2 separate regions of the Homo sapiens genome follow, and region 2 is linked to region 1. Evidence: fine-mapped QTL for protein levels in blood plasma. A gene starts in region 1. The other region holds a variant in brackets. All regions are shown on one strand. Distances are between the middles of the regions. Region 1 holds the start of KIAA0319. Region 2 overlaps KIAA0319.

Evidence for each region. PIP is the chance, under the fine-mapping model, that this variant and not a neighbour inherited with it causes the effect. Protein levels are from antibody-based Olink assays in UK Biobank. Linkage for the fine-mapping came from a reference panel and not from the study's own genotypes, which makes the PIPs less certain.
Region 2: its variant is fine-mapped to the plasma level of the KIAA0319 protein (UK Biobank, PIP above 0.99).

Annotation. Positions count from the first base shown.
Region 1 is chr6:24,644,201-24,649,576 of GRCh38, forward strand. KIAA0319 reads right to left here and starts at 1,991. Exons shown (of 21, transcript NM_014809.4): 1 at 1,536-1,991. RefSeq lists a silencer at 1,836-2,045.
Region 2 is chr6:24,618,174-24,623,549 of GRCh38, forward strand. The region is part of intron 1 of KIAA0319; the gene reads right to left. Among named protein-coding and RNA genes, the nearest start is that of KIAA0319, 25 kb to the right of the region's middle. The variant T/C (reference allele first, on the strand shown) is at 2,228.

The DNA of each region.
Region 1 (5,376 bases):
TGTGAAAGTGCACCCTGTGATGGGATAGCTTCCTGGACAGGGGAGAGGGGGGGGTTCCCACTCTGAACCAGGGAGACTCTGGCTACCCATGACCTTGAACTGTAATAATTGGGTAAATAATGATCTTGTTTTTACTAATCCTTCTTAACTGTATGTATAGATCCCATTTATTTCTATGTTTAATATTAGAAGTGTTGTGGTCTTTATTTAGAAGTTTGGTGATTTTTTTATGACCAGAAATATGCTGTAGGAACTTAACTCTTGTTTATATCAATTAGCCTGTGGTAAAATTGGTTTCCTTATACCTCGTTGTGCTTAAAGGTTCACAGTTTCCAAGAACGTATCAAGAATGTTAAGTGAGGACTTACTGTATTTATTTAAAGAGAATGCTTCCTATCTATTGGCTAGGGAAAAAAAAAAAGTCAAGAAAATTTAACAGCAACTCTATTCTTTTACATTCATACATTACCAAAGCTCTCTTTTGGCTATTTTTAATTCATAAAGATTTTGGCTGAATTATTTTCATTATTTCGAAACAAAAATTAAGTTCTTGCCTCGGCATTTTGCATTACAAATGCAAATGCATTACAAATGGTTAATACAAATAAATCAGAGTACTTAGGTAATATGTTTACATTTCCCTTTTTCAAATTACAGAGGAATTCACCTTTCTCTGTGACTCCTACGTCTATAACTGAACTGACACCTCCAGTTTTCCTCATCTGAATTAAAAATAATACTAAAAAAAGCACAAAATAAAAGTTTAGATTTGGCATAACTTTAGTAGTCTCTACAATTGTGGTCTTCTTATAATAAATTGAAGCATTTGGAAAGTGAGCATGTATTTCAGGAATAAAGAAATAAATACCAACATTTACTTCCAAAATTCTTGTGTGTGGGGGGGAACATTGTCTACAATTTATTTTTTCTGTTACTATCAAAAACATCATTCAACTTTTCAATTCAAGCAGTGGAAAAAATACTAACATTTCACCGACAAACAAAAATGTTTTGATGAACAAACCAGCAATAAAAGTGCACATGAGTATGTATATCATATTTTTCCTCCTTGTATTTAATTAACAAATGACCTTAAGATGATAACTCTCAAAATTTCAGGTTTATCCTCCCGATTAATTTGTGACATTCCTTGGAGGGAATTCAAAGGGAAGAAGAGAAAGATTTTAAGCTTCAGGTTATGGTAAGGAACAGAGACAAAATGCATTTAGCAAATAATAGGAAAGATCACATAAATAGTTCTGAATGAAGTTTAAAGAAAACGATTCCTTACTTCTAAAAAAATGCAATTCGTGAGGTTGGGAAAAGACACTCAAATTTCCCCGACTCCACCCTACTAGTCAACAATCAGTGCAGCAATCAAAAAATGCCCTTTCCTGAATGCCCAGAAGAATCTTAAGAAACTCACCTTCTGAACTCAGGGCGTCTCGATTCTACTTTTGTTGGGTATTGGCCTGCCTACTGGCTGCCCTCTTTCCTATTTCTCGGCCAGGCGCTCTGGGAAGTAGATACCGTACCTGTGGTCACTGCTGGCGACACTGAAGCTCGCCCCATGCGTTGCTGCTGGCCCTGAGCATCACTCGCCGTCCCACTTGTTCCTCCTCGTCGTCATCGCAGGTCTTACACACACACACACACACACACACACACACACACACACACACACACACGTTCACACCCTCGCGCGCGCACCTGCTGTTAAGAGGTACAGCCCCACCCCAGCAAAATCCTCGCTTCCTCTTCCCCGGGACGTAGCCCCAGAGGAGCGAATCTGGACCAAGCCCAAGACAGGCTGAAGCTACTGCTGCGCTCTCACCTCCGGCAGTGACAGCGAGCGCCGCCGCCGCTCTGCGCGGGGCCAGCCAGGCCCGCCGAGGGCAGCACAGGTGGAGCAAGGTTGCACCCCCGGGGGATCCCCGCCCACCGCCCGCGGCAGCTTCTGCAGGCTCGGGGAAAGCGCGCGCCAGTGATTCAGCGCCTTTCCGCCGCCGCGGTTACCACGGCGACGCGCGCGCACGCGCACACACGCCCTCAGGGATGTGGGGCGCGGCAGCCGCCCCTGCCCAGCTCCCCTGCTCAGCTCCCCTGCTCAGCTCCCCGGTTGCGCTCTAAGTACCCGCACCGGGGCGACACACTCCCACCCCGCAGGGGACCAAGCAAAAGTCTTTCGTGAACCTGAGCGGCCTTCATACCCTACCTGCTTTCCTTCACCAAGCCCTTCCCTGTCACCGTGGCCCTAAACAGTCTGGGGGATGAACACTCCTTCCAAATAAACACCCGGGCCAGGGTGGCTCAAGGGAGCCGTGGGTGCACTGCCTGGGTCAAACACCCTTCGCGAATGTGTCCCCCAGCTTGTCCCCAGCTTGTGTCACCCCAGCTACACAAGTTCCATTCTTCCAGTGGGAGTCTCTTTGGCCCCTACTCTGTAATTATCTTTCTATTTTGAGCAGGTGCTTTCTGACTGAGACTGGGAACCTGTGCTAGGAGGGGCTCCCATCACCTCCAGGCCTTGCAGGTTAACTGGATGCCCAGTATAGTTTGACATTTGCATCTTGAGGAACGTGATAATCTAAACCACAGAAAACTTGGGTGGAAGACTCTTGCATTTTTACTGTTTTAATAAAGATGCGAAAGCATCTAGGGATAATATCATGAGCAGAAAAGGTAGCCAGGGCATTCCTCGCACATCTCATTACTAGGAGGTATAAGTGCAGTGCTTAGGGCTGAGTCACACACTGTTGATGAATAAGCTTCTTGGCTACTCGTATTTACCGAAGAGCCTCAGACAAGTTACCTAATCTAGATAAACCTGTTTCCTCAATTATAAAATGAAGATAATAGCATTCATATAGGATGATTCTGGGAATCAAATAAGATAATGCACATTTAAAGAGTAAAAACCAGCTGGGTGCGGTGGCTCACGCCTGTAATCCTAGCACTTTGGCAGGCCGAGGCGGGCGGATCACGAGGTCAGGAGATCGAGACCATTCTGGCTAACACGGTGAAACCCCCGTCTCTACTAAAAATACAAAAAATTAACCGGGAGTGGTGGCCCGCGCCTGTAGTTCCAGCTACTTGAGAGGCTGAGGCAGGAGAATCGCTTGAATCCAGGAGGCGGAGGTTGCAGTGAGCCGAGATCGTGCCACTGCACTCCAGCCTGGGCGACAGAGCAAGACTCCGTCTCAAAATAAATAAATAAATAAATAAATAAATAAATAAATAAATAAATAAATAAATAAAAACTAAAGAGTAAAAACCTGTCCAGGACTCAAAGAGTGAAAATCAGCTTGGACTTGGAAAAGTTAGTACTGCCAATGATCAATGATCAGGCTGAGAGGACAAAGTCAGAAGCAAAATTAACAGGCAATGTTGTTTCCTCTGAAGTCACGCAGCAGGTACAAAACAACACAACTCCTTGTGTTCCATTTTTGAATGACTACTACTTTCTACCTTTGCTTTACTATTCCCATCCATAACTGGGGATACCCAATTGCTAAACTCCCTTCACCTCCTGACAGCACCCAATCCCTCATTAATCCCCCTTTCTCTCAATCTGCCTCAGAAACAGCAACCAACTGGATCCCAGCTCTGATTCCAAGACTCTCCCTGGAATCCTTTAATAGGAAGCCAAATCTTTACAAAAGACACTTCCTCCTTTCTGTGCTCACATGGCATTCCACAGGTACTCTTTCAATGCATCAAGCCAATGAATCTGATTTTGTCCCCAACGATCCTTGGCTGATTAGCCTTTAAAGAAACATATTTTTAGCACATACACACACACACAGGCTTAGCCCAGAATGTTTAACTATACCATCTTTTTAACTCAGAGACACTGTAATGAATATCTATTTTCATTTTTAATGAATATATCTATTTTGGTATTGTATGAAAATGTTAGTCTCCTTCTTTAGGACACAGATGTGAGGCTACTACCTTTCACTTCTTTTCAGCATTCAGTGGACATCCATTGAGCTCCTACTATATGCCAGACACTGCAAGAGGTAGTAAGGATAAAATGATGTATCCTTAGTATAATTAACTTTGTCTGCTCTTGCTTATGCTTTTGGTTGGGACATTTGTACAATAAAAGATAACTTATTTTGAGGGTGGGTAAAACTGAGGTTTAGGAAGGTTAAAGTACATTCCACATCAGTGGTAAAAATGGTGCTTAGCGTAATGACAGTGCTGCCTCATTGAAATACAAGACTTTAGGCCACGTACAGTGGCTCATGCCTATAATCCCAGCACTTTGTGGGCGAGGCAGGAGGATTGAGTGAGCCCCGGAGTTCGAGGCCAGCCTGGGCAACATAGCAAGATCCTCTCTGTACAAAAAACAAAAACAAATAAAAAGTAGCTGGGTGTGTGGTGCACACCTGTAATCCCAGCTACCCAAGAGTCTGAGGCTAGAGGATCACTTGTGCCCAGGAGGTTGAGACTGAAAAAAAAAAAAAAAAAAACCCAGAAGATTCTATGTTGGAATTTCACTAAGCAGGAAGGTAAGGCAAGCAAAGCTACTACACTGGAAAAACTTTGAAAAATTCCAAGTAAAAAACTCAAGATATAGCAAATTAGTAGGTTAATTCATTGATAACTATTGCTCATGAAAGCAGACTAAAAGTGGTTTTTTTTGAGACAGTCTTGCTCTGTCGCCCAGGCTGGAGTGCAGTGGCACGATCTCGGCTTACTGCAACCTCCGCCTCCCAGGGTCAAGTGATTCTCCTGCCTCAGCCTCCTGAGTAGCTTGGATTACAGGCACGTGTCACCACGCCTGGCTAATTTTTGTATTTTTAGTAGAGATGGGGTTTCACCATGTTGGCTAGACGAGTCTTGAACTTCTGACCTCAGGTGATCCACCTGCCTCGGCCTCCCAAAGTGCTGGGATTACAGGCATGAGCCACTGCACCCAGCCGATAATCCTTTATTTAATCTAGTATACTACACTGTATTTTTTTTTTAAGAATTTAGACTTTCACCCATCTATGTTTTGCAATGTGATCTGAAGTTCTAACTTAGCTCTTCTAAATGAAAGCAATTTATGCCAGAATAACCCTTTTCCCACAGAAATGTACTATTGTATTACCTCTATGATGTATGCTACTCTACTATTAACATCTATTCTCATTTTTTATTTTATTTTTGAGATGGAGTCTCACTCTGTTGCCCAGGCTGGAGTGCAGTGGCACGATCTTGGCTCACTGCAAGTTCTGCTTCCTGGGTTCGTGCCATTCTCCTGCCTCAGCCTCCTGAGTAGCTGGGACTACAAGCACTCGCCATCACGTCCGGCTAATTTTTTGTATTTTTAGTAGAGACAGGGTTTCACCGTGTTAGCCAGGATGGTCTCGATCTCCTGACCTC
Region 2 (5,376 bases), 26 kb before region 1:
AATAAACCCCAGGGGGAGAAATTAACTTAAAGTTGTCCTGAGTTGTCAGTGCCACAGGTACTTGGCAGAGGCAATTATAAATTCCTTCTGGAAGAAGTTTTCTCAACCCCAGAGAGAACCTAGACAAACCAGAACGTACAATTCAAAATTACAGGCCAAGTAGAATGACTCACAGTTATAACCCCAACACTTTGGGAGGCCAAGGGAAGAGGACTGCTTGAGCCCAGGAGTTTGAGACCAGCCTAGGCAACATAGTGAGATGTCATCTCTATTAAAACTTAAAAAAAAAAATTAGCCAGGCATGGTGGTGTGCACTTGTAGTCCCTGCTACTCAGGAGGCTGAGGTGGGAGAGTTGCCTGAGTTGAGGCTGCAATGAGCCATGATCACACCACTGCACTCCAGCCTGGGCAACAGAGCAAGACCCTGTCTCAAAAGAACAAAACACCCCCAAACAACAACAACAACAAAAACACACAAAAAGTACAAAACACACAGGCAACACAAAGAAAAGCAACAGAAAAGAAAGACAAGAGTATTAGGTCCCAAAGATTTCAGATAATGGAATTCTGGCATATAAATATAAAATGAAATGTTTAAAAAAAAAAAGTAGTAGCAAGGTACAAGACTAAAAGAAAAAAAAAGATCCTGGCAGATTTGAAAAATAACCAAGCACAACTTCTAAAAACAAAAAGATTTTTGCTATTAAAAGCTCAATGGATGGGCTAAATAGCAGATTAGACACTGCTGAAGAGAGAATTTTTGAACTTAGAAGGTCACATTTGAGCAAAGACTTAGGAGAGATGAGGGAGTGAATCATGTGGACAGCTGAGAGGAAAGAGTTCCCAGGCAGAGGGAAAAAGAAACACAAAGGCTTGAGGCGGGGAATGTGCCTGTGTATTGCAGGAACAGCAAGAGGGTCAGCATCGCTAGAAAAGGGAAAGCACTAGAAGGTCAGGGTGGGGGACAATGGGAGGCTGTATTATAGGTTAGTATGAAGGATCTTTGGCTTTCACCATGAAACTGGAAATGTTTCAGGATTAGCTCCCTCGGGCTTCTGCGTTGAAAAGAGAGTATAGCAATCAAAGGCAGAAATGGAGAGACAAGTTAGCAGCTTCGGCAATAATCCAGGTGAGAGGACGGTGTCTTGCACCAAGGTGATAGTAGTGAAGGCCCTGAGGAGTCAGAGCCTTGATTTATTTTAAGGTAGAGCATATAGGATTTGCTGATGGATAAGATGTAAGGTGTGACACAAAAACAAGAGTCCTAGATGACTCTGAGCAACTGGAAGAATGGGGTTGTCATTCTCCAAATGCAAGAGATATCTAAGTGGAGCTGCTGAATAGGCCACAGGATAAATACGTCCAGGGTTCATGGGAGAGAGGGCTGGAGACATACACTGGGAGGCATCATTGTGTAGCTGGTATTCAAAGCCACAAGACTGGTTAACACCACCAAGAGAGTGAGTGACAATGGAAAAGGAATGTTCATGCTTGAGGGATGAACTTGAGTAGAAAGAGTGAAAATGCACGAGGGGGGAAATGGCCTATTTTCAAAATATTCCATGAATATGTCTCACCTAGTCACATGCATCTGCAGAGAGACCTTAAGGTGCAAGGGGGAGAAACTTAAAATAAAACAGTGCCTTCTGATCTTGAGAGTGCCATATTTTGCTGCAGCAGGCGTGCAAATCACACTATAGCAATTCCCTCGCTGCTTCAGCCAGAGCAAACCAAATATAGTTCCAGCCTGACTAAAAAGTGCCGACCATCTGAAATGACAATCACATGGATCCCATTCGCTGTTCATTCTAACACTGCTGGATTAATTGGCCTAAAATCCTGTTTTGTGTTTCCTTGGTCAATAATATGCTACTGAAAATAAGTTAGCAATTTATTTTCAATATATTTTGCCAATATTGGTCGGGAGTAGTGGAGTCAAGCTTCCTGAACTTGATATTCAGACATGAAAAAAGTATGCAAAACTGCTTCACAAATTTTTTTAAAAATCATTTTTGTCACCTGGACTGTGGCACTCCAGAACTTGGTTTTAATCTTAGCTAAGAAGATCCCAAACATGAGGCCTCTTCAATTTTTATATATAAAAAAAGGAAATGCTGACTATCCCTAGTTGTGTTTTTGTTTTTTGAGACGGAGTCTCACTCTGTCGCCCAGGCTGAAGTGCAGTGGCATGATCTCAGCTCACTGCAACCTCCACCTCCTGGATTCA[T/C]GCAATTCTTCTGCCTCAGCCTCCCAACTAGCTGAGATTACAGGTATACACCACCACGTCCGGCTAATTTTTATATTTTTAGTAGAGACGGGGTTTCACCATGTTGGCCAGGCTGGTCTTGAACTCCTGACCTCAGGTGATTTGCCTGCCCCGGCCTCCCAAAATGCTGGGATTACAGGCATAAGCCACTGCTCCCGGCCCCATACTTGTGTTTTTGCTTTTTTTCTATCTTCAATCTTTCCCTAAAGACAACTGTATTAGTCTGCTCAAGCTTCCATAAAAAGAAAAAAGTACTATAGAGTCGGTGGCTTAAATAACGGAATTTATTTTCTCAAAGCTCTGGAGGCTTGAAGGGAGTATGCTAATTCTATTGGATAAAGGCCCCACCCTTATGACCTCATTTAAATTTAATTACCTCCAATAAAGTCTTTACCTCCAAATATAGTCACAGGGGTTGGAGCTTTTAACATATGAATTTTGGGAGACACAAACATTCATTCTATAATAGCACCTATGCGTATGCCTAGGAATGCAGCTGACTTCCTACTGCCAATTCAAAATAAGAAACAGAAACTATGTGGTATCAGCCAGGGTGGGCATGGAAGAAAACTGAGAAGCATACAGTCACACCTACTTCCCTTTTAGGGAGTCCCTGTCACATCCTGCTCATCCTCCCATCATCTCCCTTCCATTATGTTTCCACAAACCCAAGCTTCCAAATGAAGGTGTTGGCTGATATTACTTATTTAAGCCTCAAGGTCTTATTCTTTCTTAGGACGTTAGCATTTTCATCTGGAGATTCCTGAAGACAAAAAGGTATTTCAGGTACCTTTGACAGATGATGGTATGGGAGATATTTGGGAGATGGGCGAGTATCTTATGGTTCTCTACTCATAGTTCCTTAACACACTCACTTTATTATTGAAGCTTGAGAGAAGCAGGGTGTTGCAGCAACAGACCAAGCCCCCAAGTGTTCATTAAAAAGAGAATTGAGCTCTCTAAAGAGGCAGATCATGGAGACAAGAACCACCATTATTCCAGGGGACATCCAGAGACACAGCCCACACAAAAAATATATTCATATTAATCTATCTGGGAGGAAATTGGCATCATTAAGAAAATCTTGGAAAGCTCAAAATAAAAAAGAAAACTTTCTAGTTCAATATGGCAGATAGATGTATATCCAGCTCTCCTCTTTCCTGTGCATGGTCTTACTGGGGGGAAAAACTGTGAGGGGAGGCAAACAGGACATAAGAACAGACAAAAGAAAATAAACCATAACAACACAGGAAAATAAGAATGGACATCATTAATAGACCAATCATTTCAAAGAATTCCTGGAAGATAGAAAGCAGATGGCATGGCTCTGACTGGAAAGGAAGAGAGGAAACTCATTTCCTAGAAAAAGGAAGAACAGCACTTTTGGTGACAGCACTGGAGAAGCTCCAAGCCCTGAGCCAATGGATGCAAAGAGACAGAACCGGCCAAGGCACAATCGTTGGGGTGATCACCAAACGAAAAACAGATCTCAAGCTAAAGCCAGAGAACTGCTCTCTCAAGAGACGGAGATCTACCTCCATGGGGCCCTGGTGGCAGCACTGGGCCTGGGAGAAAAGGAGAGTCAACAGAGTCTGCGAATGCACAGCTCTGCCCTGGAATGAAATCTACTTTATTCTGAAGCACCACACCTCTAGGCAGAGCTCTCCTTCCAGTGGCTGCCTGGGGAGTGCTCACCCGTACACCCCAGAGGGAAACCTGACCAGACACCTCCCACTCATGCACTCAGATGCCACAGCAAGCCTCACATGAATCAATGAGTGGACAGCTACGTCAGAAAGCAGCCAAGTATCCTGATCAGTGGAGCCCCTCACAGATCAAAAGGAACAGGCAACCAAGGACTGCTAGACATTTGAGAAATTAAAAAAAAAAAAAAAAAAGAACATGAAAAAGAAAGGCTATGATAAACAAATAGAAGATTAAAGGAACAAAGAAAAACTTTAAACCACAATTAATATCAATAATTAAAATAGTAATTAGTATCTTTGGAAAAATTTGAAAGGATATTGCCTCCATAAAACAAAAATAGGCTGCTACAAATGAGGGGCAAAAATCAGAGAACAAGAAAAATTATTGGAAATTCAAAATAGGATTGTTAAAATTAAAACCTCAGTGAACAAGTGGAATAACTGTTGATAATGCTAGCAGCTAATATATATTAAGTACCTCCTATGTGTTAGGCCCAGGATCTGTTCTTCGCATTTTAAACATCCTAACATACCTAATAATCAAACTAACCCAGTGAGGCAGGTACTATTATTCTCCCCATCTCACAGGTGAGGAAACAGAGTTAAAGAGATTAATGGCTGGGCACGGTGGTTCACACCTGTAATTTTAGCACTCTGGGAGGCCGAGGCGAGAGGATCACTTGAGATCAGGAGTTCGAGACCAGCCTGGCCAACGAAACCCTGTCTCTACTAAAAATACAAAAATTAGTCGGACATGGTGGCAGGTGCCTGTAATCCCAGCTACTCGGGAGGCTGAGGCAGAAAAATTACTTGAACCCAGGAGATGGAGGTTGCAGTGAACAGAGATTGTGCCACTGCACTCTAGCCTGGGCAACAGAGTGAGGCTCCATCTCATTAAAAGAAAAAAAAAAGAGAGAGAGAGAGAGATTAAGTCACTTGCTCAGACAGCTAAAAATTAGCTAAGTCAGAATTCAAAGTCAAGCTATCTGGCTCCAGAACACCTGTTCTACGTGGCTGAAGGCAAGTTACAGATTTGAAAGGTAGATGTGAGGACATTCCCCTAGTGTGCACATGAACACAAACACACACATACACGCACACACACAAAGACAAAGGAAAAGAAAATATGGGGCAATGTTAGAAGGCATAGGGGAGAGTCCAGAATTTTCATCATCTAGCTAAGAGGCATTATAGGAAGAAAGAACAGAGACAATAGAGGGGAAGAAGTGAAGAAATAATAGAACAAAATTTCCTTTAAATGAAGAAAACCAGTCTTCAAATTAAAAGGGCCTACATAGTACAAGCAGGCAAGCAGGATATATGGCCTAGACATCTTGATAAAAGTTAAGAACTCCAAAAGTTCTTAAGGACATACCCTAAAATCTTCCAAAGAGAAAAAAAATA